3 linked regions of the Homo sapiens genome follow. The protein of the gene in region 1 binds, or shares a complex with, the protein of each later gene. Each region holds a gene or a part of one and is shown in the gene's direction. Other genes may lie near its edges.

Region 1 (10,276 bases):
ACCCCGTCTCTACTAAAAATACAAAAAAATTAGCCGGGTGTGGTGGCGGGCGCCTGTAGTCCCAGCTACTCGGGAGGCTAAGGCAGGAGAATGGTGTGAACCTGGGAGGCAGAGCTTGCAGTGAGCCGAGATCACGCCACTGCACTCCAGCCTGGGTGACAGAGTGAGACTCGTCTCAAAACAAACAGACAAACAAACAGAAAACCAGTCTGGTAGCTCCTAAAAAGGAGTTACAATATCTTACCCAGCAATTCCACTCCTAAGCATAAACCTAGAAAAATGAAAACATTTGTCCCATCCCATGCAAAAATTTGTACACATATGTTAATAGCAGCATTTTGTGTAATAGCCAAAAAGTAGAAACCACCTAGATGTCCATCAACTGACAGATAAATAAAACGTGGTATACCTATACAATGGAAAATTATTGGGTAATAAAAAGGAATAAAGCATCAATATATAACACAACATGAAAGAAGCATCAAAAACATTATGCTTCAAAGATGCTGGTCATAAAAGACTACATATTATAAGATTCCGTTTATATGAAATGTCTAGAATAGGCAAAACTATAGAGACAAAAAGTAATTCAGTGCTTGCCTACTGCTTGGGGGATATGCTGGGGAGGGGGATGTGCTAAAGGCTACAAAGCTTCTTTTTGAGATCATGAAAATACTCTAAAATTGATTGTGATGATGGTTGCACACCTCTGAATATTCTAAAAACTATTGACTCAGATGCTTCAAATGAGTGAATTACATGTTATGTGAATTCTATCTCAACAAAGCTGTTACCTGAAAAATATTACTGTGTAATCATACCAGGGGGTACTTAGAGGTGGATTCTTTGCATGCCGGATTCAAAGCCTTATCAGGCACAAATTCTACCAACCAAATTTCTACCAATTAATTACCTATTAGCTCATTTGTGAAGCATTTCCCCTCCCTATCCTTTCTGGTTTTTGACTCTTTCTAAATGACCATGCATATGAGGCCTCCAATCTCACAAAGCCTACATGCCTAGCTTCTGCCAAGCGTCACTCCATCTAATGTCATTTGTCTCTATAGTAACCAACTAGAAAAGCTGCTATGCTTAGTAATGGCTTTGTACGAGCAGTGGTCTAGCCTAGAGATGTTTTAAAGATTTGAGTCCTCTCTACCGATTACTGTTTTTTTTCCTGGTATTAAAAAGTGAACCTCTGATGAATGAGAGCAGTAGAGGGTTAGAGAGAAAAGGATGGAATATATTATAAAACATGAAGGAAGATGGACTGCAAGTAGAGACTTGAGTTCAAGAGGAAACGAGTTTAGAAAGACCTTGATTGATAAGAGGACTAAGAAGACACAGACAAAAAACTAGGTATAAGAAACAGAAAATAATTATTAGGCATTTCCCTTCAAAATGGTCAAAAACAACATAATGATATACACACCAAGAAACTGTCAATAAATGTAATTACAGTGCTTCAGAAAGCTGACTGATGTAACCTATGGCTATGCAAAAGGTGTTTTACAGTATAGTCCAGCTATGGATAAGGGATCAGATATAGCTTATACCTTCAACAAACTTCTAACACAATGATGGGTAGAAAAGAACACAAAACAGTGAAACTTTTATTAATGACGTGGAGCAGAGAAGGGGAGAGGGTACGCTATGTAACAGACATGGAAACCTTATAAAAAGTATAAGGATGCATTCCAGGATGTGTAGCTCCATCCCCCACACCTTCCAAGGGATGCCTTTTTCAACAGGAGGCTTGACATCTGTAGTACCCCGTGGGGAGCCTCCCCCAGCTTTGCCTTGGCTGGGTCTCCTTCTCTCTCCCAGTATACACCTGGACCAACCTCATTAATGGAGCTTTGTTCCTCAAGAGTTCATTAATCAAGTCATTACTGGAGTGTCCGCCAGCCTGTGGGTTCTTCCAGAAAATGATACCAATCTATTTTTTCTACATACAAAGCCCACTTTAAAATTTACTTGACATGGTAGAGAGTACAAAGGTACTAGGACAGCCATCAGAGGAATGGGTTTCTGAGCAGCAGCATCCTCATTTGTTATATGGGATGATATCTTACCCTCCTGCCATTCCTGTTTGTGAGGCTCAAAAACAGGTATTTTAAAGTTTTTTACAAATTGTCAAGAAAACATTTTTTCTTTTGCCTATTTTAACATAACTGGTTACAGGTGCATCTAACACTTTCTATTTCGCATCATACTTATTTGATTAGTTACCTTTCCTACTGAACCATAAGGTCTTTGTATGTCTTATCTTTGACTATTTCTCACAGAGCCTAGCATAAAAATTTCACATAACAAATGCTCTCTGTATGTATGTAATGAATTATTATTGAAATCATTATTGTACAATTTACTCCATTTAGAAATGTCTATGAACTCCATCAAATCTCTAGTCTATATTTATACAGAAAATTTTATTTAAAACTATCATTAAATTTTGACATCCTATTTCTAATAAATAAAAAGGAGCCTCTTAAACTAACTAAAGACCATATTAAAACAAGCCTTACATGAGGAATTTTTTTAAGTTGGTAATAATACAAATGAGAAGACAATTCAACACAGTGATTACCCGAGGTGGAAATCTAGATTTGAACAAAAGCTAGAGGTTAGTACTTCCATTCCTATGATAACTTTTGCAGTAGACACGGGCTGACACTCAATTTAATTCCTAGTTCTAATGTATTTTAATTTGGCACATTTTGATTTAATTCAATTTTAGTATATTTGAATTCGCTCTTTCATCTTGTTTTGTGTATGACCTCAATTTGACTTCAAGTTTCACTTCTCTGTAGAGGAGTCTTGAATCCATGCAAGTAAGCTGCATCTTGTGTCTTCAGAATTCAAGCTATATGCCCAGTGGTATATACTTCCTCTGAAGAATGGCAACAGCACACCACTCCACATACGCCACACCCTTACTGGCATGGCTAAAGGACCACATCATTTCACCCACAGGAAGTGCTTGGGAACTGACCAATATTTGGATTCAGTAAGATTAGATGCTCAAATAAGCTTAATTCTGAGGGGAAAAATATCTTATAGCTATATTAGGTTGTTAGAGCTGCCATAACAAAATATCACTCACTGGGTGGCTTAAACAATAGAAATTTACTTTCTCACAGTTCTGGAAGCTAGAAATCCAAGATCAAGGTGTTGGCAGGTTTGGTTTATTCTAAAGCCTCTTTGCTTGGCTTGCAAATGGCCACCTTTTTGCTGTGTTTCCTCTGTGTGCGTGTGACCCTTGTGCTTCTCTGTAAATCTAAATTTCCCCTTGTGAGGACGCCAGCTAGATTAGATTAGGGCCCACCCCAATCACCTCATTTAACTTAATCTCCAAATACAGTCACATTCTGAGGTACTAGGGATTAGTGCTTCAACATACGAATTTGGGGGAGACATAATTCAGTCTAAAACAACAACTAACTAGTTTCATGTATTTCTGCCCTAAGCACTAGTTTAGGCTTTGTTCTGTTCATCTTAGAGCCGATAAAATCTCTCTCAGCCATCCTTCCCCCAAGTAACCCATAGTGAGAAGTGATTGGGGGATTACATTCCATGCAGCCCTCCAAACATTATGTGGGACCCCCTTGGGTACTTAATAAAGACATTCACAGTGACCCATCTGTTGTACAATTAGATGTTTGGGAGTCACCAAAGTTGTTCAGCAACAAGTCCTACTGATTGCCTCTGAAACCAGAGAGAGGCTTTCACAATTCTTTTTTTCCTACAGCATACCAGTTAAATTAGAAATATGCCAGGACATATCTGAGGAATCCTTTCGGTCTCTCCTGGAGTAAGGTAGTATCAATGGTGAGGAAACTATTGAACAAAGTGCTCAACGACCCTTTAGTATTTCTGACAAGCAATAATACAAGAGTTAAGACAGGAGAAGCCTGGAGCTAATTCTTGCAGCTTCCAGTGAAATGTTGGGGAGTTTTTTCTTCTTAAATACTGTTGCATATGATGTGTTAAACAAAAAATTTTAAAGAAAATAAGCCAAATTAGTGGCATTCAGGTAGATCTTCTCAGTCCTTCATGCTGCACATCCACCAAAAGTGAGTTTTACAACTAGTCTCATTGTAACACTTACGGTCAGACTGCAAAATGCACGTGATTTTAACAAGCATAAAATGTCGTTTTCATGAGACTGACTAGACTCTCCTCTTAAGAGTACCTGTAATAATCAGACAACTGCATACACCAGTCTCACAGGAGTTTTAATCTTCAAATGGTCATTTTATCTTACATATACAGAGTGTCTTACAGCATACAGCAATTTCCACTTTATCTGCTAGTGTTAGGACCAGCACTAATAAGAATGAAGAGTATGTTGTTTATCAGCCACAAAAATCTGTGTCTATCACCATGGTTTGACTCTTAATACTCTAATGTCACAAACAACTGGCTTGAAGAAGTGTTTTTTGGTAGGTCCTATATCTAACTGTTCAATCCACTGACAAAAAAAGGGAACTCTTCCCCACTCTAACCGGTTTTCCTAAATGTACGAGGGGTTGACATTAGCTGTCTCACATTAACTTTCAAAAGACCATCAGATGAAAACGTTTCATCAAAAGCCACCTACTTAAGTATGAACAATGACCAAAGAATGACAAATCAAAATTCTGGGCACTATACTAAGAGAAAACTCTTCCAGAACACATACTTAAGAATTAATTTTCTCTCTGAATTTGGCCAAGTTTGGTGGTTTCATTCACAACATTTAAGGAAAAAAATGATGGTTTATGGCTAGCAGATAATAAAACAAACCTTTATACCACTTACTAAATAGAAACGGTTTAGGCTCACAAATATGTTAAAGCTTTCTCTTTCCCCGCAATGGTAGCCAAGCAGCATAAACGAATCAACATTTCCTCAGTTCAGACCTCAACTGGTTACAGGCAAGCAAGGGCTCCTCAGAATTTGCTTTACTAACGGTTTAGGTCAGAAATTTTTTTGAAGATCAAATGTCTTGCTATGTCTTTGTGTTCTTTTTCCCATCTCTATTACGTTTGTTGCCCTGTTGGTCTCCTAACACTTCCATTTTCTCCTTTTATGTTCCTGCTATGCTCTCCAAATGGCAGTAACCTGAAGTATAACTGATCACACCTCTTGTGATTTTTTTTTATTCTAGGACTTCCCAGATCTGGACTCCGAAGAAGACGCCCAGGTGCAAGCCCAAAGGTTACCTATTTAAATTTTCCAAGCACAGTGTGTAGAAAATCATTCCTCGCCCTTCATTTTGTGTTGCTTAACGGCGCTGTCGTGCCTAAACGTAGATACTGGCCAAGAGCTAGATTTCCAAAATGGCTTTGCTCCTTTCGAGCTGACATCGGTCTATAACATGCAATTTATTTCCCCTGCAGCCAATCTTTCTCTCTACTCCAAATACTACCCGATACGCAGAAAGCTGAACCTAACCCAGTGTAAACACCGACTCTCATCTGCTAAATTCAGCAAGGCCGGCAAAGCTGTTGCACTGATGTAAAAAGAGCGTTAAATCAAAAAACCAAAAAAACAAAAAAAAAAACAAAAAAACGCCAAAACACCCACACGAAGCCAACTGGAGGGGCGGGCGTCGGCCGGATCGCGCCCTCCCGCCGCAGCCACGCCTCCCCGCCGCGGCCACGCCCCCTCCGCCCCTCTCCGCGCCGCCGCCGGCGGCCTCCGCGCGGGCCTCCCAGCCCTTATTCCACTCACTTTGTTCTCCGCCTTTGTCCTAATCCACACCAGCAGGTGGAGCCGCAGTTAAAGTTTCCGAGTCCATTCCGGGAGCGGGAGCCCATCTTGCTGGCTGCCGAGGCCCTCGCTGGAGGAGGAGGGTCAGAACTCGGGTGCAGCCAATCGAGGGCAACGCTGCTACTTATCAGAGCAGAATGGGCTGTAGTTTAGTGAAATAGGAAAGCTGCAAAACACTGTGGAGTGCTCCCGTGTAAATAAAAAGAGGAAAAAAGTTTCTCAAGTCGCCGCTGCACGACGTCTGGCCGGCGCTGGAGCGGGGGTCTGCGCTCTCCCGAGCGGCCGCGCGCTGGACTTTATTGTGCCGCAACCAGCCCCAGTTCCCATTGTTTGTGTTTTTTTCAAAATATGGCAAAGGTTCAGGTGAACAATGTAGTGGTGCTGGATAACCCTTCTCCTTTCTACAACCCGTTCCAGTTCGAGATCACCTTCGAGTGCATCGAGGACCTGTCTGAAGGTGAGTGCGGCGCCCGTGCGCCCGGGCTGTCAGTTGCGGGCTGCAGACGTTGAAAGTTTCCCGGGCCGGGCCTCGCGCTGGGCGGCTGTGTTCGGCGCCTGGCGGCCGCGGGCTGCTCTGCGGAGGGAAACTTGAAGTTGATGGACGACGGCCGCCGAGGCGCGCGCGGCTTTCCGCCGCAGCCCAGGCGCCTGCCGGGCTCAACTTGCGAGGAACTTGTTTGAGCGGAGGAGCGGAGGTAGCCATGTTGTCAGCTTTGTCTGCGGGCGGGCAGCTCGGAGACCCGCACTCGCTCCCGCTGCGCCGCCTGAGGTCGCGCCGGGCTGGCTCCGCGCCGCCAACAGCCTCCGCGACCCTCCGGGCCCGAGCACGGAGGCTGGGAAGGGAGAGGCTGTGCGTGTGGTCGCGCCGGCGAGTTCGGAGCGGAGCCATCTTACCCCGAGTCGAGAATTGGGCCAGCGACCCCGGCGCACGGCGCCTCCTCTTGCCCCGCCGCCCGCCTGCCCCCGGCGAAAGGCAGGCAGGCACTCTCGAGAGCTCACGGTGGAGTCGCCGCACTCTCCGGGCTGGCCATGCCTGGCCGCTTCGGGGAGGAGAGCGAGGCTGTCCTCGCGCTGATTTCTGGCTTCCTCGACCAACCAGCGGGGGAGGCGGGCGCAGGCTCGGCCCCTCCGCGCCGCGGGCTGGGCGCCGGCGCTCCCCGGGGGCCGTGGGTCCTGTTCGGCCGGTCCTCCTCGGCCGGCGCCCGGGATGCGCCGGGATGCTGGCGCGCAGGCTCCCCAACCAACGTGGACTCCTTTCCCCTAATGACGAAAAGCTAATTTCAGGAAGAGAAATAGAGCTGAGGTAGGAAGTTACATTTAACCTAAAAGCAGAAATAAGATACTTAAATAATTTCCAGGACTTAATCTCTGCCTTATAAATAGTCTGAAGGAAGACTTTCTTCAAGACCGTGTTGAAATCTAAAATAACTCCACATCCAAATACAGAACACACCCTAAACATAAAACACAAACGTAGGCTAGGAAATTAAGGTCAACTCCTCATGTCAGTCCAAGAATTCTTGGTATTTTTTCTACATATATTTTAAGGTCTTAAAAATACGTATTTTTAATATCTTTAGTAATAAATATTTAGAAAGCTAAAACGACAATTATCTTTGCTTTAATTATCTTTTACTAAAGTAATTCAGTGCTTCATTTGCCAGTTTTGAAGGGGAAATAGTTTAACTTCATCGATGAGGGACATACTTTGAACTAGAAGTATATGTAAAAAATGCATTGAAGATGATTTAGGTAATCGTGGCATGTAAAACTTTTCATTTTAAAAACTAGTTTTTAATCTCTAAAATGTATATATCATATGTAAGGTTAATTTTAATTATAAAACAATATATATTCATTGTAATAAACTTTTAGAAAGTTGTACAGGCATATATAAAGTTAACAGTTCTCTGTACTCAGTGCCTTGCCCTATCTCCTTTCGGTAATCACAATTATTACTTTAACATGTGCCCCCGTTTTTTTTTTTTTTTTAAACCTATATAGAGCATAAATGCACATACATATATAGGGCAAATTTTGAAAGATGATTCATTTATTAAAATAATTTCAAATAGGCCATTGATAACACTAAGGGGTATTTTTCTTATTACTCTGAAGTCATTTGATTACTCTCCTATGATACTACTATTAATATAAGCATTGCAGCTACCAGGCCCATTTTTCACACCCAACAGTAATTTTTTTTTTATTGCCAACTGCATATAAAAATAGACAAAAGAAAAACCATTGATCGGTCCATTCCAACTTATACCACACTGTTTTTCAGATATACCACCAGAAGTTCTTCAAATTACAGGTATTTCTCAAGTGTTGCCTTCCATTTTAGGAGTCAGCTCTGAACAAAGAAGATAGATGACTCAGGATGTCGTTACAGGGCTTTTACATTGCATAGATGAAACCAGCCATTCATAAAGCCAAAACGTTCCATTTTTAACTGGGATCCATTCAGAACCCAGCTGAATCACATCAGGGATTTACAGTACTGGTGTCAAAAACATACTTATTTCCAATGGTATATTTCACTTCCTAGGCACCATTACTGAGCATTTATTTAGTATTTTAAAAAATATTTTAAGCTGAGTCATACTGAAGCTGCAAAGGAATCTTTCAAAAAGGTGCCATGCCTGTATACTCCACCTAGAGGCTATGTGGATTAAGGAAATTTTTACTTAGCAAAGGCTTCTAATAGGTTCCATACTTTTATATTACAGTTCTTTTAAAAATTCTGTTCTTAAAATTAAACTATAGAATTTTTTTTTTTTTAAATGAGACAGTGTTGCTCTGGCACTCAGGCTGGATGGAGTACAGTGGTGCAAACACAGCTGCTCCCTGCAGCCTCAACCTGGGCTTAAGCAATCCTCCCACCTTAGCCTCCTGAATAGCTGGGACCATAGTCGATGTGCCACCACATTGGGCTAATTTTTTAATTTTTTGTAGAGACGGAGTTTTGCCATGTTGCCCAAGCTGGTCTCGAACCCCTGGGCTCAAGCAGTCCTCCCACCCCTGCCTCCCATAGTGTTGTGATTATAGTGAGCCCACTGCACCCAGCCCAAACTATAGAATATTTTGAAAAGAATTTTCTTAATAAGTTATTTTGCCTCAAGTCTCAAAGCAGAGTTTGGCCACCGTTTTTCATACTTTCATCAGTAGCCCCAAACGTTCACTTTCCTTTAAGAGCTGCCCTGTAGCTTTGCTTCAGAAAAAGCCTTGAGGAATATTTGGTCTTAAGATAATTTGGTTCTTTCTAATATAGGGCTTATATCAAGGGTTAAGACAGCCTGAGACCCTGGCTGGATGTGCTTGATGGTCACCAAGACTGTACAAGTTTTGATTGACCATCCTGCCATTCTTAAATTTATATATATATATATCTTAATTACAGCTACTGTCAATTGAATACTTATAATATACCAGAATTGAGCATGGTGCTTCATACTTTCCAACTTCAGCTTGTTCTAATTCCAAAGCCTACATACTTTCCACTAGACCACAGGTCTTCCCAAGTAGTGTAATTAGCTAAAAATTCTCTTGATGACTTCCCTCATTCACTCACTCTTTCACCACAAATGTAAATACTTTCAGGCTGGGTAAATCATTTAATCATGATTACTGTGATTAAATAAAAGTTAACTTTAAAATAAATGAACAAATTTCTTCACCTGAGAACTTATGTAAAACATCTGACCTTACCCTTCCTCCCTCAAATACAGGGGGCAGAGGAATTAAATGAAAGCTGGGTTAAAAAAAAAAACAACAAAAAAACTGATGCCAATGTATAAAAGGGTATTGAGCATGTAAAACTCAGCAACTGTAGCAAGCATCCCATAAACATAAAAATCAATGTACAAGTGTTCCCTGAGTTGCAGCCTGTTCTTGTTAAGGCTAGATTCTCTCTCCATCTCCTCTGCTCTCACTTCCCCTGCAAATAAATTCCCTTATTCCACTGCTAATTTCAGAGCTAGAAAGAATTTATCTTCCCAGTTAGGTTTTCAGAAGAAGCCCGGGGTTTGTAGTTACAGAGGCATAGCTTGGATTCTGATTCTTTGATGTACAAATTATGAATTTGTGTAGATTACTTAACCTCTCAGAGTCTCAAGTTATTTGCATAATGGGGATAATTTGATCTACATGATGAAGCTGTTGAGGTTTAAACAATAGGTATGAAGTAGAACTAATGCCCAGTATATAGTAGGTATTTTCTAAAATAGGTTTATAAATTATGGCTATGTTCCTATGCCAGTCCACAAATGCGAATTTATACCACTTAGGATCAAGGGCATTATATGTAGTGATACAATTATATATGAAATTAAAATTCATGAAAACCTTTATGTAATAATTTTTTTTTTTTTTTTTTGGAGACAATCTCGTTCCATTGCCCAGGCTGGAGTGCAGTGGCGCGATCTCGGCTCACTGCAACCTCCGCCTCCAGGGTTCAGGCGATTCTTGTGCCTCAGCCTCCCGAGTAGCTGGGACCACAGGCATGTGCCACCCCTAA
Region 2 (10,112 bases), on another chromosome or scaffold:
ACTAAAAGTAGTATAGGGCAGCAGTTAAAATTATCTTTTGAAAATCAAGTATTACCTGGTTTCTTCTGTCACAACAGAATAGCTGGTTACCTAGTCAGTCACAGTTGCCCTTGCCTTCCCTTGTTAGTCCCTGGAGGTACTTGAGTGGAACAGAAGGTAGAATTAGCAACAGCTCAATCACTTTAGGTAGCATTTCTCCTGAATTCTGCTGCCAAATCCTCAGGGTCTATGGATTGGTTGAAATAGTAAAATCACACATAGTGATTTCTTGCACAGCGTAGAGGCGTTTAATTTTAGTGTATAGTGAACAAAGAAGGAAAACTGGGTCATATAAAATTTAACCTTAAAACACAGATTATAAATATCTTTGAATGTTAAGCCCTAGGCAGACAGACACTCTCATTCTTAACTCTGGTATGCAAGCTGGCCTTGCTGACAGTGGCATAGTTACATTAACTGTTTTTTAAGTTGCATGTTGTGATGTGAATGTTTTTTGTAAAAGTTGCCAAGTTAATCGAGTCCTAAATAAGTAGCCAAATGGTAACTGAGACCCACTGTAGACATTACTCGCTTTATATTATTTGCTTTCAAATACTAAAACCTCAGCTGCTAATTCAGCGCTCTAGGTGTACAGTGTCTCCTTCCCTTGGCTCCTAGCAATGTAGGGAACTTGAGGTTCTTCAGTATCTTCAGAGATTCCTTCCAGGCCACATATTTTTATGCTAATACTTCTATAGTTGCATTCAATCTACAAGGAGAAAGTGTACATTGGTGCATGTTTTATAAACCCAGACACAGATAGCTAAAACCATAATTAGTTTTTCTATACCCAGAGCTTTGAATTAAAAACAGATGCTTTTTTTTTCCCCAAGAGCAGACAGTTCTACATTCCTAACATTAGGAATTGGTGATACGAGAAGCAGGATCCAGAATTCAGAATGATTTAGTGAGACTCGGTGAAAAAAATGCATTTTCCCCTGGCTGTTTGAAAATTTACTTATTTGCAGATAAGTCTAGATTTAGTCTTGGAGATCAAAGTCTTTTATATTTTAAAAACTTATTCTTTATATTGATCAAACATGGCATATGTTAGAGAACCACTTCTTCTGTCATGTTTATGTATTTTGGAATTAAGTTGTTTGCATTCACTTTCAAAATCTGCCCATTTCTGTTTATGTGCACTTACCACAGATGTGTCGGGACTTTGCCTCAGGGGAGAGGTACTTTAGCACCTGTGTCACTGAGGAGATGGAGTGGTTGACAAGTACTGTTGCGCTGTGTAACTTGGGGTTTGGCCCTGTGGACAATATATTAGCAGAATGATACCACACAAAAGTATTACAGGATTAAGGCATGTAACTTCTATGGTAGTCCTTATGTATCAGCGTATACCCAAGTTCAGAAACCACAGGTGCATTTTTAGACCTTTACTTAGAGAACTAAAGGCAGTTCCAACCATCAGCCCATATGGCGGGATTAATGCATGAAAACCCTCAGAGGGTGTTGGGACATCCTACTTCCCTGTCCTCACCCAGTGGAACTCTGGTGTGTGCCTTGAGGATAAGGAAGTAGAGTGGAAACTCATCCTATCATTGAGTATTCTCAATATTTTGGCCTTCCCTCTGGAATTATGAGAAATTTAACAAAGTCTCAGGAACCTTTAGAATCCATTGTCCAACACTGCTAGAAAAACTGTAGGAGGTACATGGAGAATTCCTATAGTTCTTAGGTAAGTGCAAGACATGGCACAGGGATCCCTATCCACATAAAGGGGAATCTGGATGCTGCACACCTCAATTCTGAGAAATCCCTGACTGAACTTGGAATTATGACAGTAAAGTTTTCGTCCTTTAGTTTTCTAGAGCAGCTCACAGAAATTTTAAAAAGTAAAACAAGGCCAGGCGCAGTGGCTCATGCCTGTAATCCCAGCTCTTTGGGAGGCTGAGGCGGGCAGATCACGAGGTGAGGAGATCGAGACCATCCTGGCTAACAGGGTGAAACCCCGTCTCTACTGAAAATACAAAAAATTAGCTGGGCATGGTGGCGGGCGCCTGTAGTCCCAGATGCTCAGGAGGCTGAGGCAGGAGAATCGCTTGAACCTGGGAGGCAGAAGATTACAGTAAGCCAAGATCGCCCCACTGCACTCCAGCCTGGGCGACAGAGTGAGACTCCGTCTCAAAAAAAAAAAAAAAAAAAAGTAAAACAAAAATAAAGTCTATGCCCATTAAGACGTCTTCTAATTCAGTTGTGATTGTCTGCTCCTACTTAAAAAAATATTTAAGCTTGATGTTTAATTATTCCCTTTCAGCAAATTTGGATCAGAAAATTAAAGTATGTGACAAGATCAGGTCACCTTGAATTTCCACACAATCTCAAGACACTGAATAGCAAAAAAGTAACATTACACAGTAATGATTAGGATATTTCCTTAGACTTTGCTGGATCTTTGGTCTTAAGGTAACATGTAAAAGTAGTGAAGCCTTTCCTTTCATGGCCCTGTGCAATGTAACGGTTTTCTGCCTCCTCTTCAGCTGGAAGCGTTAGTGGTAGTATGGGCACAGAATATATGTACACTGGCGATGCTGACCATGCCTCCCAGGTACCCTGGCTCTGGGTTCCTTGACCTAGGGAACAAGATTGGATGAGGCAGATCTTTGAGCCCATGTGACTATAGAATTTGCTGATGATATAATTTTACAATAACAATGGATAGGAATTTTACCTCTCTTTTTATTAGTTTAATATTATTTAATATTATGTACATAAGTGTTCACTCGCCTAATTAAAAACATTGAGTAAACCAAGTTTTTATATAGACTACCCTTGCCATATGATGCTCTTTTTCTCTAATAATATGCAGTTTAAATCCTGAGGAATCAATGCCCAGCATTTCACCACATCTGAACTCTGTGTGGGCATTCTTCACTCGCCTACAAGGGGTAAACAAGGCTACCAGAACTTGAATTTGACTTATAGGGAGCTACCCAGGAAGGGGAAAGCCCTTGGGACTTTTTCCAAAACAATCTTCTATTTGAACTGTTCATCAGCCAAAGTAGTCCACTGAGGTGACAAAGCTTTCAGAAATACAAAGATGGGAAGATAAAGGTAACACTGGCCCACTTGGGGCTTTGACATTGGATTGGGTGGACTGAATAAACACAGCCTAGGTGGCCTGGGCTTGAGCCTCACTTACTTCTCCTTGATACATAGTTCCTGGTCTACCTTCTGACCCTTTTTCTAAAATAGCCAGTGTCTATTTCACTAGGCCATTTACTTACAAGTTCCCAGCTTTTAGGGAAAAAAGAGGGAGGGGGGAGCATCTAGTTTTGAATTAGATATACATCTTAGAAGTAATGAGCTATTGGCAGCTGTTAAATCAGATTCAGCCACAAACCAGAATTCTTTCTTGTTGAACAAGACCAATGAGTTAGATGACTTTAATAATTCCACTTTTCTCTCCCTCTCTTCTCCTCTTCCTGAAATCAGAGAGATGAGAAACTACTCTTTGAAATACCTCCAGAGGCGTTTTATTGTGTTCCTTTCCCCTCCAAGCAGCTCCCTTTATACAATTTTGCTCAGGCAACCAAGGACAGAGTATCGGCAGAAACATGGAGTGCTTTTGTATAGGCCACCTGTACATAAAAGTGTAATTATTTATTTAATTTTCCCATTTGTATCATATTAAAGCTTTGTACAGTGTTTTAAGTTCTGTTTTAAAATTATTTTGTATTTTATTTTTATAACCTAGTAATAAAATATTCATTCCGCATGCAAAATCTAGTTCTGTTTGTGTGATGGTCTGGATTTCAAAAGTGGAAAATATTTTTCTAATTTAATAAAGTTATTGAATACACCAGATGTTACAAGATCAACGGGGAGCAGATAGTGTTACTGTAAATGCAGTACCACATCTAGAAGTTCCCTAGAAAAAGCAGCCCAGGACTGAATAGAAGCTAGGTGTTAAGTGTCCCTGCAGTTAGGAGATGTTTTCCTGTAATAAAATTAAAATATTAAAAGCTCCTTTTTAGTCCATTATTCTGTCTGGCTGGAGGTACTTTTTCCTTCTCCATAGGAAATACCCCTTCTGCCACTAGAGAGATTCCTGCACCCCCACCCTCATCCTTCCGCCCGTAACCTTCCTTTGAACCAGAGCAACTCTCAGGAGGCATTCACAAGGGCACTGCCTCACCCCTCCTGGTTTGGTTTGACATGGAATGTTCGTGCCATCTGTTTTTCTCCGCTTGGATTCCCTTGCTTGATTTGTCACTGAGCAGCAACCTTCAAAATCCTCTCTCAGGTTTTTTTGTTTTGTTTTGTTTTTGAGATGGAGTCTCGCTCTGTCACCCAGGCTGGAGTGCAGTGGCGTGATCTTGGATCACTGCAACCTCCGCCTCCCAGGTTCAAGCGATTCTCCTGCCTCAGCCTCCCCAGTAGCTAGGACTACAGGCGCGTGCCACCACGCCCAGTTAATTTTTGTATTTTTATTAGAGACACGGTTTCACCATGTTGGCCAGGATGGTCTCCATCTCTCGACCTCGTGATCCGCCCACCTCTGCCTCCCACTGCATTCCAGCCCCGGGGGTGACAGAGCGAGACTCCATCTCAAAATAAAATTAAATAAAGGAGATTAAGAAATTACTCAGGCCGGGCGTGGTGGCCCACGCCTATAATCCCAGCACTTTGGATCTGCTGCCCTCTCCCGGCCAAAACATTAGCTGGGCTATAGCCCTAGGGAGGCTGAGTCGGGAGGATTGCTTGAGCCCAGGAGGCCAAGGCTGCAGTGAGCCGTGCTCACGCCACTGCACTCCAGCCTGGGCAACAGAGCAAGACCCTGTCTCAAAAAAAACAAAACAAAAACAAAAAACACCAAACCCAAAAATACAAACCTCAAGCTCCCAGAAGCTAATCATGATATGCTTACTGACATCTAAACTGCAAAGTAGTTGAAATATTAACCTCATGTAAACCCACTTAAGTAAATAAAGCTACATACAAGCAATTCTGTGTGCAGGGTGGCCCGAGGCACTTTAAGGGTTGTGGCTTGGGGATTATTAAGAACCTCCTAGAAATAATTCTTTCCTAAATGGTCAGTTGATGGTGAGCGCTGAAAAGCCGATGGGTACTGCTCGGCCAAGGGATTGAAAAATCGGCCTTTGAGAAGAACAAAGTCAAAATGAAAGATTAGATTATAATTTCTCTGGGGTGGTGCCAGTTGGATCTAGGAAACTTAAACTCGTGAAAGAATGTGCTTAGAGCAGAAGATAGAAGCTGGTGGCTGTCTCTGCTCCCCTCTACCTCTCTCCCGGGTCCTGGGTCTCCCTAGAGGGGCGTCCGACCCGCGGCAGCCCCACTCCCAGCTCGAATCCCTCCCTTCAGGTCGCTCCAGGGCGGGCAGCCAAGGTGGGCCTCCCCAGGCGCTGTGATCCACATTTCACCTCCTAACAACCGGCCTCTCGGCCGGGGTTGAGGACTCAGCGAGGCCTTGACTCCGTGGGTCTGGGCAACAGCCGGCTCCGCCCCGCCCCGCCAGCCGGGTCCCTCCCCATCCCGCGACCCAACGGTCGTTCCCCGCCGCCGGCCCCGCCCCTCCCTGGCCGCCCGCGGCGCGCCGGCGCCTGCGCAGTCGCCCCAGAGCGCCCCGACCGGGATGGCGGCCGTTTTGGAGTCGCTGCTGCGAGAAGAGGTGTCGGTCGCAGCCGTCGTGCGGTGGATCGCGCGCAGCACCCAGGGTTCGGAGGTAACAGCGGTGACACGCCCCCAGGTCTGACTCGAAGCCGGTTCCCGCAGTGGAGTCCAGCCCTCCAGTCCCCTTCCTCTAGGGCGCCTGGCTGCCAGCCGGGCCGAGTGCACTCCAACTGGGCGCCGCTGCCCGGGCCGCCCACCCGAGGCGCGCCCTACGGCCCCGGCTGCTCACGGCCCGCGGGCCGGCGGCTGACCCTCTCGCCCCTCCACCTGTGCTTCTGCCCTAGGATAACGCTGGGGAGGCGGCCGCGCTGAGCTCACTCCGGGCCCTGCGGAAAGAATTCGTACCGTTCCTGTTGAACTTCCTGAGGGAGCAGAGCAGCCGCGTCCTCCCGCAGGGGCCCCCGACCCCCGCCAAGACCCCGGGCGCCTCGGCAGCCTTGCCAGGGAGGCCGGGAGGCCCGCCGCGGGGTAGCCGCGGGGCGCGCAGCCAGCTTTTCCCTCCGACCGAGGCCCAGAGCACCGCTGCCGAGGCCCCTCTGGCCCGCCGCGGGGGCAGGAGGCGGGGCCCGGGGCCGGCCCGCGAGCGTGGAGGCCGCGGCCTGGAGGAGGGGGTCAGCGGGGAGAGCCTGCCCGGAGCCGGGGGCCGGAGGCTTAGGGGCTCTGGCAGCCCCAGCCGCCCCAGCCTCACGCTGTCTGATCCGCCAAACCTCAGCAACCTGGAGGAGTTCCCTCCCGTAGGCTCGGTTCCCCCCGGCCCTACAGGGTGAGACTCAGCTCTCATGCAGGAGATGGGTACCACGAAGGCTCTGGGGAGTCAGTCATTCGAGCTCGGCGCTCCGCAGTGGAGCGCCAGGATGGGTAGAAGGCTGGGGGTGATGGTGAGGGTTTTTGTGGGGTTTTTTGGCAAGAGGTCTAGCTGTTGCGGTGGTGGAGGGGAGATGTTTGAAGATAGGAATTTGAGAAAAACCTGTGGCTACTCTCAGCAGGACGAAGCCTTCTCGCAGGATCAACCCAACTCCGGTGAGCGAAGAGCGGTCACTCTCCAAGCCCAAGACCTGCTTCACCTCACCCCCAATCAGCTGTGTCCCCAGTTCCCAACCCTCAGCCCTGGACACTAGCCCTTGGGGCCTTGGCCTTCCCCCAGGGTGCAGAAGTCTGCAAGAGGAGCGAGAGATGCTCAGGAAGGAGCGGTATGGCCTGGCCGCTCCTGGGGATATCGGTTTCCTCGCTGTGGGGGATCTTCAGGGGTTTTCCCTGAAATTGATTTCCCTCTTGGGGACTCTGGGTTTGTCTCCTGGGCTGTTGGTATCTTCTCTGGAGTGACCTGAGTGTGGCCGTAGCAGGGAAGCCAAGCTGACTGCTCATGAAATTTCTTTATTCCATAGCTCTAAGCAGCTGCAGCAGTCACCTACCCCCACCTGTCCCACCCCAGAATTGGGGTCGCCCCTCCCCAGCCGGACAGGAAGCCTCACAGATGAACCTGCAGACCCTGCCAGAGTGTCTTCCCGCCAGCGCCTGGAGCTTGTAGCCCTTGTTTACTCCTCGTGCATTGCTGGTGAGTGAGAGCGGAGGGAGCGGGAGTGGAGACACTTGTAGAACTTATGGGTAAGAGAATTGGTAAGGCACTTGGAACTGAGCCTTGGCTCCAAATGGTGCCCATACCATGGGCTTTCTTTTTGTATCTATCTAGAGAACCTGGTACCAAACCTCTTCTTGGAGCTTTTCTTCGTCTTTCAGCTCCTCACTGCCCGGAGGATGGTGACTGCCAAGGACAGCGACCCTGAACTAAGTCCAGCTGTCCTAGGTCAGTGAGCAAGCCTCCTTTTGAGACATGGGGTCTAGAAACGGGACCGTTCTTAACTGACAGCTTGGTACTGTCCTTCTAGATTCCCTGGAAAGTCCACTGTTCCAAAGCATCCACGATTGTGTCTTCTTTGCAGTGCAGGTTTTGGAGTGTCACTTTCAGTGAGTTTCCCTGGCTGAGGCATTTGGGCCTCATTCTCATCATCTGCTTAGCTCTCTGGCTGCTTGGGATATATGCTGGTGCTTAACACAGGGGCAGTGGTCCTGGACCTTCTCCTACCTATAATCTTTCTTTAATTTTGTGTTAAGGCTATGAATGTAGTCCCTGAAAGAATTGAGATCGGGCCAGGTGTGGTGGCTCACGCCTGCATTCCCACCACTTTGAGAGGCCGAGGCAGGACAGTGACTTAGGCCCAGGAGTTTTAGACCAGCCTGGGCAACATGACAAAATCCCATCTCCACCAAAAAAAAAAAAAAAAAAAGGCCGGGTGTGGGGGAGTGCGCCTATAATCCCAGCTACTTAGGAGGCTGAGGTGGAAGGATCTCCTGAGCCTGGGAGGTCCAGGCTGTAGTGAGATCACGCCACTGCAGCCTGGGTGACGCCCAGCCCAGCCTGGGTGACAGAGACCCCCATCTCAAAAAAAAAGAAAAAGAAATGGACCCCTGTGGTCTTGGCAGCTGAGCTTTGGTTTCTGGGTAATGTTCCTGTCCTGCTGTCTTGGTCCTTGCTCTGTAAAGTCTCATATCCTCCCCTTGACTTTCATTATCTTTGATCCTTGGCCCATGACCTTGCAGTACATATCTGGGCTTGCATACCTGCGCCATGCCTTAGAGATCCTCTGTGGTGTGCAGGTGCTTGCTTCCTACTTGCAGTCTGTGTTCTGGTCTCAGTCATAGGTGCTCTTGTCCCTGCAGGGTTCTTTCCAACCTGGACAAAGGGACCTTGAAGCTGCTGGCTGAGAATGAGCGGCTGCTGTGCTTCTCACCAGCTCTGCAAGGCCGCCTTCGAGCTGCCTATGAGGGCAGTGTTGCCAAGGTAGTAACCCCAGCTTAGTTGCCCACTAGCCTGGACCTAACCCTTCCTAGCTTTCATAAATTCAGGCAACCCTGCTGACGACACTTCAGTGTAATGTGAGCTAACTCTGGGCAAGAATAAGAGGGAGAAGTTTTCTCAGCATGACCCTGCAGTTCCTAACGTTCCTGCTGTATTTTAGGTCTCTCTGGTGATGCCTCCCTCTACTCAAGCTGTCTCCTTTCAGCCAGAGACTGACAATCGTGCCAACTTCTCCAGTGACCGAGCCTTTCATACTTTTAAGAAACAGAGGTGATAAGAAAAGGGACTTTTTGGGGAGGGAATGAGATGACATTTTTCTGGAATAGGCAGCTGTTTGGTTTCATAGAAATTAGGAGTTTGGCACCAACAGGTGGTGGGTTAGTCCCCCCAGGTCCTTCCTGCCGGCCATCATAGGGACCACCTGGCTTCATTCTCATGTGCATCTGTGAACCCCGGCGCTTAGCAAGCCATCTCACAGGTGTATGGTTTTAGTCTCAGGGTTCTCAAGCAAGAGTGTGCCAGGATGAACTGTCACTGCCCACAGAAGTACATGAAGCCTGTAATGTGCTGCTGGTCTGTAGCACTACTGTCATCATATAGAGAACTCTGGAGAAATTTAAAAATGGGGCTGCTGGCCGGGTGTGGTGGCTCACGCCTGTAATCCTAGCACTTCAGGAGGCCGAGGGGCGGATCACCTGAGGTCAGGAGTTTGAGACCAGCCGGGCCAACATGGTGAAACTCCGTCTCTACTAAAAATACAAAAATTAGCCAGGCGTGGTGGTGGGCACTTGTAATCCCAGCTACTCTGGAGGCTGAGGCAGGAGAATCGCTTGAACCCAGGCGGGGCGGAGGTTGCAGTGAGCTGAGATCGCGTCATTGCAATCCAGCCTGAGTGACAAGAGCAAGACTCCATCTCCAAAAAAAAAAAAGGTGGTGGGTGGGCTACGGATAGTTCTTCCAGGGGCAGGAAGGCACTGGTGGGAGTGAGTGCCTCGGCTGATCAGGCGTTCTTATGCGTCAGGGATGTGTTTTATGAGGTGCTGCGAGAGTGGGAAGATCACCATGAGGAGCCTGGCTGGGATTTTGAGAAGGGCTTGGGCAGCAGAATCAGGTGGGTGCTCAGACCTTGTCTTTCTTGTTCCTGGCAATGAGTAGCTCAGTGCTTGCTCGGTGGCAGGAGGGAGGAGGAGGGAAGGTTTTCCCCGCTCCTACCAGCCATTAGCTGTTTTCTACTATCCTCCGAAATCTCTTTAGTTATTGATAACTCTGCCTCTATTCGAAAGGGATGTGTCTCTCCAGCTCCTTCCACTCACAGGTGTCTTATCCTTGTTCTGTAGTGGCAATTGCTTAGAAAGTCCAAAGCTCTTAACTCAGGTTGCTTGAGGTTTTTTTGGCCCAAGTCACTGCTTAGACACATCCAGCCTCCATCTTCTCCATCCTCTAATTTGGGCAAGTCTGGTCACTGTGCAGGTAGATGCCTGGGCTCAGAACGCGAACCTCAGTCCAGTCATCTCCCTTCACATTGCTCATGAAACCCGCCGCCTGTTAGTGTGGCTGAAGACGGTCGGGG
Region 3 (9,406 bases), on another chromosome or scaffold:
GCAAACAGAAAACTCTTGAATTATCATTTTCATTTTGCTGTTCGATTGATGTCTAATCAGTGACCTGGCTCATCTTGAAGCCAAGGGCATAGTATTATCAAGTGACTGGCTGTTTCTTTGTAATACTCTGATTAGGTTAATTTTGCATACAGCATTGCCCTTCTAGATATGTTCGAATAAACTGTATTGTGGGTATCTACCTTAGAGTAATCTTGGTTTTCTGCTTGTCGTTCTTCCACGAAAGATACTGTACTGAATCTGGAAAAGATCTGACAGCAATGTTCAGGGAAGAGGGTAGAGCAACTTCCATTTGAGTGTAGGTTTTAAAAAATTAGATTTTGCCGGGCACGGTGGCTCATGCCTGTAATCCCAGCACTTTGGGAGGCTGAGGCGGGTGGATCACTTGAAGTCAAGAGTTTGAGACCAGCCTAGCCAACATGATGAAACCCTGTCTCTACTAAAACAATACAAAAATTAACTGGGCATGGTGGCGCACACCTGTAATCCCAGCTATTAGGGAGGCTGAGGCACGAGAATCACTTGAACTTGGGAGACAGAGCTTGCAGTGAGCTGAGAGCTGAGATCGTGCCACTGCATCCCAGCCTGGGCAACAGAGTGAGGCTCTGTCTCAAAAAAAAAAAAAAAAAAGATTTATTATTCCACAAAAATGAAGGTTGGTTCCACAAAAGAGAATGTGTGGAAAAGCACAGTAGAGGAAGAAGGAGAAGGGAGCTATCATTTGATTGTCAATTATAGTGGGTGACTTAAAGACTAACCTGTTAGATGGTTAATCTCCAATTTTGTATGTTTTTATATACCAAGTCTGTAAACCTTAATATCTGTTAGGTGGTAGGATACATGAGAGAAAGTGTTTTTTTTTTTTACAATGGAGTTTTTATTGGTCCCTAATTTGTAAACTAGTTAATCACAGAAAAATGTGACATCTTATTAGGAAATACTCTAATGGTAATGGTGTTAGATTAACTGCAGTTGTAAAATATGTTTTATACTAATTCATTTTGTATACTATTCCCTAAGGAGTTCTTACTAGTTGGAAGACTTCGTTGTGCTTTCTCCAAATGTATTTTTCTTTTAAAAACTTAATCTAGGTGTCACTGTATCAGTGGGCGGGGTTGACGTGTAGAGTAGTAATGGCTCCCTTAGACTAGAATAAAGGATAGGTCTAAAAAGAAAATCTTGTTTACTTTCTTTAGCATCCTACAAACTTGGTATCTTTTTACGTAAAACTGAGAAGCTTTCATCCAAAGAAAAATAAAATAGAACTTGGAACTTTTTACAACTTTTAAAATACGATTTACTTTTAATGGGTTCAGATCAGAGAATTGTTTCCTTAGCTGTTAAAAAGGAATCAGAAAATTGTTCCTTCTGAGTCAGAAAATAAGGTCACAATAGAAATTTGATATGTTCCTTCCTGTCCACTCTGAAAATAGTAATAACTAGTGTCTTAAAGCACAGACTCATTCCCAGAAAACATCTATCACCAATTATTTGGCCCTTCCAATCTGAAGTTAAAATCAAATCTCTACTTGACTTAAAGGGGCTTATTTTTTCTGAAATTGGATACACAAGTGACAAATTGTGTGTGTTCCATAGCTGTGGTAAAACTTTTGACTTTCTTTCTTTGTACAACGTCTTTTATATCTCTAGGCAACAGGAAAGGATAAATTCACAGAGGGAAGAGATAGAAAGACAACGGAAAATGTTAGCAAAGCGGAAACCTCCTGCCATGGGTCAGGCCCCTCCTGCAACCAATGAGCAGAAACAGCGGAAAAGCAAGACCAATGGAGCTGAAAATGAAACGTATGTTCTTTATTGACGTGAACGCTGAGACACCACACCCTGCCCCCAAATACAAATGTTGATTGTCACCGGCAATAGTTTTAAATTCTTGAGGTCACTCAGGTTTAAACCTTCTTTTCAGTTACATTAATGGATTTGCTCAACTCATATAAATGCCATATAAAATTAATTGATTTTCTTAAACCTGCTCTTTCTTTAGGGCATTTTGAATGAGAGGGAAAAGTAATGTCACTTGACATCATGACTTTTGGCCACTCCTGGTTAACAAATAAGATGTCATTGTACTGAAATGATATTATTGCTTACATGTGGCTGCAGGGTGTGGTACACTAGTATCATCTTATGGGAGTTACCTGGCTGTTATTTCAGACTGAAGAATGCTCTTTACTGGTCAAAAGAGCACTTAGTTAATAGTCACAAACTTAGGATAAGCCCCCCAGAAAGCTGTTATGTTAGAAAAGGACATTGTCCCAATAAGCCACAACTTGATCTCATCAGAATTGTTTCCTGTTCTGGGAATCTAAGGAAAACACCAGTATCTTAAACTGCAGTACAGTCATCTTTTTCTCTGTCACTCAACAATATTTACATAGCTACCATATATAGGAGGAGTAGAAAATTCTAAGCACAAATGCCTGCCTTCTCCATTCTTCTCTTCCTTTCTGTTTAACTGAAAGTAAGTTTCAAGTCCAAAGATAGCTGCAGATAAAAGATATATAACTTATCAACTAATATGTCATTTGCTTTATGTTTTCATATTAGTTCACAAAAACAACACATAATCCACTTCAGGTATAATAATACTTGTATTATATTATTGTTAAAAGTCTGTGGCATCCTAGAAGTGCATCTTCTTTCATTCTAGTGAGAAAGATGGCTTAACACCAATCCTCACCCCATACATATCTGATGTTTTGGGAAGTCTCTTCCTTGATGTTCGTTTAGTAAGTTTATGTTAAATGCTTATTTTATGCTAGGCCCTCTTCTGGGAATACAGAGCTAAAGGATACAGCCCCAGCCTTAGGAGCCCACAGTTTACTTAGGTGAGATGAACAGACGAATAAACTAATAATTACATTAAGTATAGCGATAAAAATGTGCATAATGAACTTGGAAAACATCTTCATTCATATAACTCCAAATTTTGTTGTTGTTGTTTTTTTTTTTTGAGACGAAGTCTCACTCCGTCGCCCAGGCCAGAGTGCAGTGGTGCTATCTCGGCTCACTGAAACCTGTCTTCTGGGTTCAAGCGTTTCTCCTGCCTCAGCCTCCTGAGTAGCTGGGACTACAGGCGTGCACCACCATGCCCAGCTAGTTTTTGTATTTTTAGTAGAGATGGAGTTTCTCCATGTTGGCCAGGCTGGTCTTGAACTCCTGACCTCAAATGATCCACCCTCCTCGGCCTCCCAAAGTGCTGGGATTACAGGTGCGAGCTACTGCACCCAGCCCAAATGTTACAAAACTAGAGTCTTGTTTTCCCTTGATTTTAAAGACTAGTCAAGTGCAATAATGAGAATGAGAAGAGGGGAAGAGTATTGAGTCTTAAATATAAAGTATTTTCCTTTCAGCAAGTCCAAGTAGGGGCTCAAATTTGAAAGATTGTCCAGGCTAATTAATCTGACCAATGTTTTCTTTCATGACTCCTGTGTGTATTTTGTGAAGGGACTTTCCCTCTAGTATTATTTGAAAATTATTTAATGCTAATGCACAAAACCATTGGCTTAGGAGTGATAAAGAAAGCATAGGTTGTTTCTTTGCCACAGAAGAATAATTAGAATGCAATCTAGGCTAGTAATGTGTAAGCAATTGCTATCTGGTGTCCTGTGTAAAATCCAATCTGGAAGACTTTCAGTCCAGTTTTTAATTAGAGTATCTGTGACTTGGCTCTTACTTTGACCAGAAGCCAGAAGTAGGCCTCTGGGGTCTTGGAGTGAGCCATATTATCCTTTCTTGGCCCCGAACCTGTTTCAGACAGAGAATTCTTAGCCATCATTTTTAATTTTTCTGTTTTTCGCTGGTGTGGAATGGAGTAATAGATACAGGTATTTCTGCATCTGTAAAGAGATAGCCCTAGTGGGTGAGTTTCTTCTTCTTTCTATTTTTTCTTGAGTTAGACCTCAAAGGCTCTGTTCTGGTTGATAGGATAGATATTTCCCCTTTCTTCTGCTATTTAGAATATATCTAAACAGTGATATCTAAAAATATTAAATATCTATATGCTTCTAGAATGCGAAGAAGGTAGAGATGGAAGAAAAAATAATTCTCACTTGTTCATCTTTTTTTCTTTTATTTTCTTTCTTTCTGTCTTTCTCTCTCTCTCTCTTTCTTTTCTTTTCTTTTCTTTCTTGAGACAGAGCCTTGCTCTGTTGCTTGGGCTGGAGTGCAGTGACATGATTATAGCTCACTATAGCCTCAACCTTCTGGGCTCAAGCAATCCTTCCATCTCAGCCTCCTGAGTAGCTGGGACTACAGGCATGTGCCACCATGCCCAGCTTCTTTCTTCTTTTTTTCACAGAGACAGAGTGTTGCTTTGTTGCCCAGGCTGGTCTCAAACTCCTGGCTCCAAGTCCTTCCCGCTCAGCTTCCCAGAGTACTGGGATTACAGTGAGCCACCAAGCCTGGCCACTTGTTCATTCTTGAGATGTAAGGATGCTGTTGGAGTAGTTGGAACATGAAACACATGACTACCCATCAAGTCAGCCCTTTGAGAGTTGATTTAAATAGCATTTTCAATATTCTTTATATGTTGTCATTTAATAGTCACTCTTTCTTAGATAGGTATTATCACTTGCTGCATTTCAGGAAACTGAGTTAAAGAGGTTAAATTTGCTTGCGCAAGGTCACATGGCCAGTAGCTTAGTAGTGCTTTGAACCCTAGTCCTCAGACTCCAAATCCTAGACTCTAATTTGCTGCTATATCTTTCTCTTTGTTATTACAGTATCAAGGTTTAAGTATTAACAAGAATAATCAAATCCATTGGCTTATTGTTTTGCCCTCTAAAAAATTTTTAGAGAATTTTTGGCTGTCTCTGAATGAGTTTTTATCTTAGTAATATATGGCACAAAACTCATTTCAAAAATAATATAAAAATATGGCTCACTTTTTTTTCTTTTTTATGTTTTGCAAATTAGACTTCTGGCTTTGAAGTTCTTCCCTCACATCACATCTGGTAAATCACAGAAGTTTTCTCTTGTCAGAGGACTACAAGATAACCCATCTTTCAGTCATTTTAACTGAGACTGAAACTGAATATGTCTTATAGTATATTTGAGCATTTCTCTTTAAACAGGCAAACTATGATTTCTAGTAGTTTACTGAAACTTTTACCACTGTTTTTCAGGTTAACGTTAGCAGAATACCATGAACAAGAAGAAATCTTCAAACTCAGATTAGGTCATCTTAAAAAGGTAAGTATAATGAGAAAATCTCCCTGGAGAAATGTGATACCTAGTTTAAATTTGGGGTTGAAGCTATTTGGTCATTTGGGTGAATGTAATAGTAGCTGCACATAGCAGCAGAAAGCTTCAGTGACTGCTTTCACTGTCATGTCTTGTAGCCTAATGGTAGAACTCATATTTTTCCATTTTCTTTCTTCTTCTTTTTTTTTTTTTTGAGTTGGAGTCTCACTGTGTCTCCCAGGCTGGAGTGCAGTGGCACGATCTTGGCTCACTGCAACCTCCACCTCCCGGGCTCAAGCGATTCTCGTGTCTCAGCCTCCTGACTAGCTGGGATTACAGGCACGTGCCACCATACCCAGCTAATTTTTGTATTTTTAGTAGAGACGGGGGTCTCACCATTAGGCTGGTCTCGAACTCCTGACCTCAAGTAATCCTCCTGCCTCGGCCTCCCAAAGTGCTGGGATTACGGGTTACAGGTGTGAGCCACCATGCCTGGCCTATCTTTGCATTTTCAAGTCAATTCCAGCAACCCAATGACAGTGTTTTTCCCCCTAGTGATCTATCAGCAGATAATTCTGTACACATCATAAGGCTTCCCAAGTGGTTATCCTTGGAGTAAAATTTAAATATATAACAAGAGCAGATGGTTTTGAAATTGATGTGAAGACTCCTGTCATATTTCAAATCACATAGCAGCTCTTATTCCTTGCCTAAACTAGCTAAAAAGAGAAAGTGTTATGTGAACCTTATTCAAATACAAAGGCACATAACATAGAATTTGTTATTGATGATGTTCACTGAGATATCTTAGATGTGGATTACTCAGCTCTTAAAATTCAGAAGCCCATACATTGGTCGATGCTCTTTATAGGTGATAATGGTCAGTAAAGATTTACTAAACTGCTTTTGGTATGTGTGCTTTTGTTTTTTATTTCACATATTAGTTTTCATGCTGTTTTCCCACTGGGTTCTCAGAGCTTGTTAAATAAGTAGAACTTGCTGGGGATGGTGGCTCACACCTGTAATGCCAGCACTTTGGGAGGCTGTGGTGGGTGGATCACCTGAGGTCAGGAGTTCAAGACCAGCCTGCCCAGCATGGTGAAACCCCGACTCTACTAAAAATACAAAAAATTAGCTGGGCGTGGTGGCATGTACCTGTAATCCCAGCTACTCGGGAGGCTGAGGCAGGAGAATCACTTGGACCTGGGAGGCGGAGGTTGCAGTGAACCGAGATCGTGCCATTGCACTCCAGCCTGGGTGACAACAGCGAAACTCCATCTTAAAAAATAAAAATAAGTAGAACTTAAGTCACCAAGTGTAATCCATACTTAAAGATGAGAACCGAACCAGATAGATAACCTGATTTTTGTAAAAAATGTTTCCATGTCTAAATGTATATGCACAAAACATTCCTGAAAACTTATGTAAGAAACTTAATAGTGGTTATTACATCTCAGGAGTGGGCATGGAGAGGAGGGAGGAGGAGGGTAGGGAACTTTTACTTTTCTTACTGAACTCCTCTGTATGGTTTGAATTTTATTATTTTCTATGGGCTCATTTTTATGATTAAAATTCTTAAAGAAATCTTTCAATGCAAAGCACCTTCCTTTAGCCTTTCATAAGATAAATGTCTGCTATTGTTTTTGAAATAAGATCCCGAAAAGGTAAAGTTCCCCCTATTTTGTGCTATTTCTTTCCTTTTCGCTTTAGGAGGAAGCAGAGATCCAGGCAGAGCTGGAGAGACTAGAAAGGGTTAGAAATCTACATATCAGGGAACTAAAAAGGATACATAATGAAGATAATTCACAGTAAGCTACTTCAGGGCATATTGGGTTGGAGATTGCTAAGCATTTTATGATATGAATTGAATGGTCTAGAATAATGTGTTTGCTTAATGTAAGTTACATAAATGATTCCATGGTGTATTTAGCTCTTTTGTAGCATCTAATACAATTTTGTGAACAAAATTATGATTTGCCTTGGTTTAAATATACAATTGTATTAAATTTATATATTAAGTATATATGTGTATACATATAGCATTTTTACATGAATAAAGATTACTAAAACAATATGGCTTTGTAATTGTAAATGGTTGAGATATGTTGCATATTCAGATTTTCCTACAGAGCCTTAAGAAAGGGAAGATGGGTCACAGTGTGGTGTTGTGGAAAGAGTATTGGGTTGAGATGACACTCGGTTTCTGAATGACCTTTAAGGGCTATTCAGGTGTTGAGATTTTAAGTAAGACTCTTAAGTTCAGTACATTAATTGTAGATGAATTGAAACTGGGAAAAGTAGGTTGAAAGTAGAAAGGGGTTTTTATAAGTAATCTGTTTTTTCCCCATATTTTTTGGACCCTGAAACATTTTTTCATAAAGCCATAGCTTGTATATTTTTGTTTGGCTTATATGAGCTTTGGACCTGTCTTTCTGTTAAAGTGGCAGACAACAGCAGGTACCACTTCCTGAGAGCTCTCTGTGTATCAGGCTTGGTCCTAAGTGCCCTTAGTGCTCTCATTTAATCCGCAGGATAACCCAGTCATCTTTAATACATTAATCAGAAAACAAGCTTAGAGAAATTAAATTAACTTGCCCAGGGACCCATAAATAATGTGACCAAAGAGTTCAACTTGGATCTTTTTCATCTAAACCACCATGCAGTAATGTCTCTCCAGATAGGCATCCTACTTTCTTAAAATCCATGTAAAGTAATTTCAGAATTAATAGTGAGATTGTTTAAGATCAGGAACTAGGTAAAAATATTTTTAAATTTGTTTTTGCCAGAACTTGTCATTTCTTTATCATATTATTAAGAAAATACCCAAGGTAGAGTCTAATATGGGGAACACAGTTATATCTGTCTTAAAGAGAGAATAATGAATGCACATAGAACATGTGACTCACTTTAAAATCAAATCTGTTTTTAAGGAAATAGCAAGTGTCTTGGAATTTTACTGTATGTAGTTTTGAAATGGTGGGAACATGTGGCCCTTGAATAGTTTGGAGGAGCCAAATAGCACAATCTAAAAATCTCTAATCTACCCTCCCTCATTGTATAGCAGGGCAGAAAAAAGGAGGAGGAGCAAGAAAGGTCTAGTGTAGCTACACTGAGACCAGCACCCAAGTCCTGTGGCTCTATAGCTGGTGCTGTTCATTGTAATTACACTGCCTCTTTGAACTGTGTAACTTTATACTCAGTATTTGCCATGTTGATGTTGATTGTCAAACTACCAACAGCAGCTATAATTATATGTATAATGTGTTAGATATTCTGGGAATTTTGCAAGCGTGGAAGACTGTAGTCCATGATCTCAGGGTGTTACATGTTCCCTGTTTCCACAGATTTAAAGATCATCCAACGCTAAATGACAGATATTTGTTGTTACATCTTTTGGGTAGAGGAGGTTTCAGTGAAGTTTACAAGGTAAGTATAAGGAACTGGATACAAAGACTGGGGGTTAAATTATCGGCTCCTACCAACTTGGAGAACATTAAGAATACTGATAATTGTAGGTTGATATCCATTGGTTGAAATTCAAAAACTTTAAAAACCTGTATCTTTGGGAAAACAGCTTTCAATAAACCTAAGTGACCAAGCAGAATACAGTATTGCCATTTTCAAGTTTGAAAAATAAATAATTATAGATTTAAAAAACAAGAAGGAAATATACTGGGTCGTGGAATTATGATTTTTATTCTGGTTCTGTACTTCCTGCCTCATACATATTTGTTAGAAAAAAGTATGTGCTATCTTTCTTTCTTTTACAGAATAGATGTGTCAAACCTGTTTCCAATAAGAATAGGTTTTTTTCCATTGGAAAACCTGCTTTTTGTTTTAGAAGTGTTCTAATATCATTTACTAGCACTGGCAGTCTGAAAGAGTGTCCTGGCTTAGAGTGCTTCAGTTGGGCTAGCGAAGTACAGGCTGCTGAGCTTCCAGGTTGATTTTTACCAAATGAGGGATTCAATATGTTTTAAATATAGCTACAGATCCATAACATGTGGGTTTGATTTTTCTACGTGTTTCTGGCACCTGTCTGTAAAGTACAGAATTGTTTATTAAGTAGTCTTTGTTGCATAGCTGTCCCTTTCAGAAATACAGCTTTCACTGTTAGGATTTATGTTATGCTCATATGAATTTATATGTGATAAATCTTTTCAGTAAAATAGTTTTCATTGCAAAT

What was found.
Region 2: the proteins of ASF1A (region 1) and CDAN1 are in contact, whole or in part, in a cryo-EM structure (PDB 9CVC), measured with the Homo sapiens proteins. Residues at the interface, in NP_054753.1 of Homo sapiens: Gln5 (codon at 6,118), Val6 (codon at 6,121), Asn7 (codon at 6,124), Asn8 (codon at 6,127), Val9 (codon at 6,130), Val10 (codon at 6,133), Val11 (codon at 6,136), Leu12 (codon at 6,139), Asp13 (codon at 6,142), Pro15 (codon at 6,148), Asn20 (codon at 6,163), Pro21 (codon at 6,166), Phe28 (codon at 6,187), Asp37, Val45, Ser47, Ala48, Glu49, Ser50, Glu51, Glu52, Asp54, Asp58, Ser59, Val60, Leu61, Val62, Gly63, Pro64, Val65; in NP_612486.2 of Homo sapiens: Arg195 (codon at 6,685), Arg196 (codon at 6,688), Ile197 (codon at 6,691), Asn198 (codon at 6,694), Thr200 (codon at 6,700), Val202 (codon at 6,706), Lys390 (codon at 8,435), Leu391 (codon at 8,438), His470, Glu471, Glu472, Pro473, Gly474, Trp475, Asp476, Lys538, Arg541, Arg544, Leu545, Gln546, Arg548, Leu549, Met550, Ala551, Pro552, Gln553, Ser554, Ser555, Arg806, Lys807.
Region 3: the proteins of ASF1A (region 1) and TLK2 are in contact, whole or in part, in a crystal structure (PDB 7LO0), measured with the Homo sapiens proteins. Residues at the interface, in NP_054753.1 of Homo sapiens: Val45, Ala48, Glu49, Glu51, Asp54, Asp88, Val92, Thr93, Val94, Leu96, Arg108, Gly110, Tyr111, Tyr112, Arg145, Thr147, Phe149; in NP_001271262.1 of Homo sapiens: Arg11, Arg12, Gln13, Leu15, Leu16, Glu17, Arg19, Phe20, Thr21, Gly22, Val23.

Annotation. Positions count from the first base shown.
Region 1 is NC_000006.12:118,888,309-118,898,584, forward strand, and holds the start of ASF1A (histone chaperone ASF1A), read left to right. Parts: upstream 1-5,843; 5' UTR 5,844-6,105; coding exon 6,106-6,214; coding exon of another isoform or gene 6,215-7,017; intron 7,018-10,276. UniProt on the Homo sapiens protein: Histone chaperone that facilitates histone deposition and histone exchange and removal during nucleosome assembly and disassembly.
Region 2 is NC_000015.10:42,732,638-42,742,749, reverse strand, and holds the start of CDAN1 (codanin-1), read left to right. Parts: upstream 1-5,621; 5' UTR 5,622-5,647; coding exon 5,648-5,737; coding exon of another isoform or gene 5,738-5,761; intron 5,762-5,969; coding exon 5,970-6,448; intron 6,449-6,668; coding exon of another isoform or gene 6,669-6,671; coding exon 6,672-6,875; intron 6,876-7,070; coding exon 7,071-7,240; intron 7,241-7,375; coding exon 7,376-7,489; intron 7,490-7,571; coding exon 7,572-7,650; intron 7,651-8,403; coding exon 8,404-8,524; intron 8,525-8,702; coding exon 8,703-8,812; intron 8,813-9,563; coding exon 9,564-9,653; intron 9,654-10,112. UniProt on the Homo sapiens protein: May act as a negative regulator of ASF1 in chromatin assembly.
Region 3 is NC_000017.11:62,571,547-62,580,952, forward strand, and holds part of TLK2 (serine/threonine-protein kinase tousled-like 2), read left to right. Parts: intron 1-1,668; coding exon 1,669-1,821; intron 1,822-2,798; coding exon of another isoform or gene 2,799-2,864; intron 2,865-5,162; coding exon 5,163-5,229; intron 5,230-6,930; coding exon 6,931-7,028; intron 7,029-8,564; coding exon 8,565-8,646; intron 8,647-9,406. UniProt on the Homo sapiens protein: Serine/threonine-protein kinase involved in the process of chromatin assembly and probably also DNA replication, transcription, repair, and chromosome segregation. Phosphorylates the chromatin assembly factors ASF1A and ASF1B.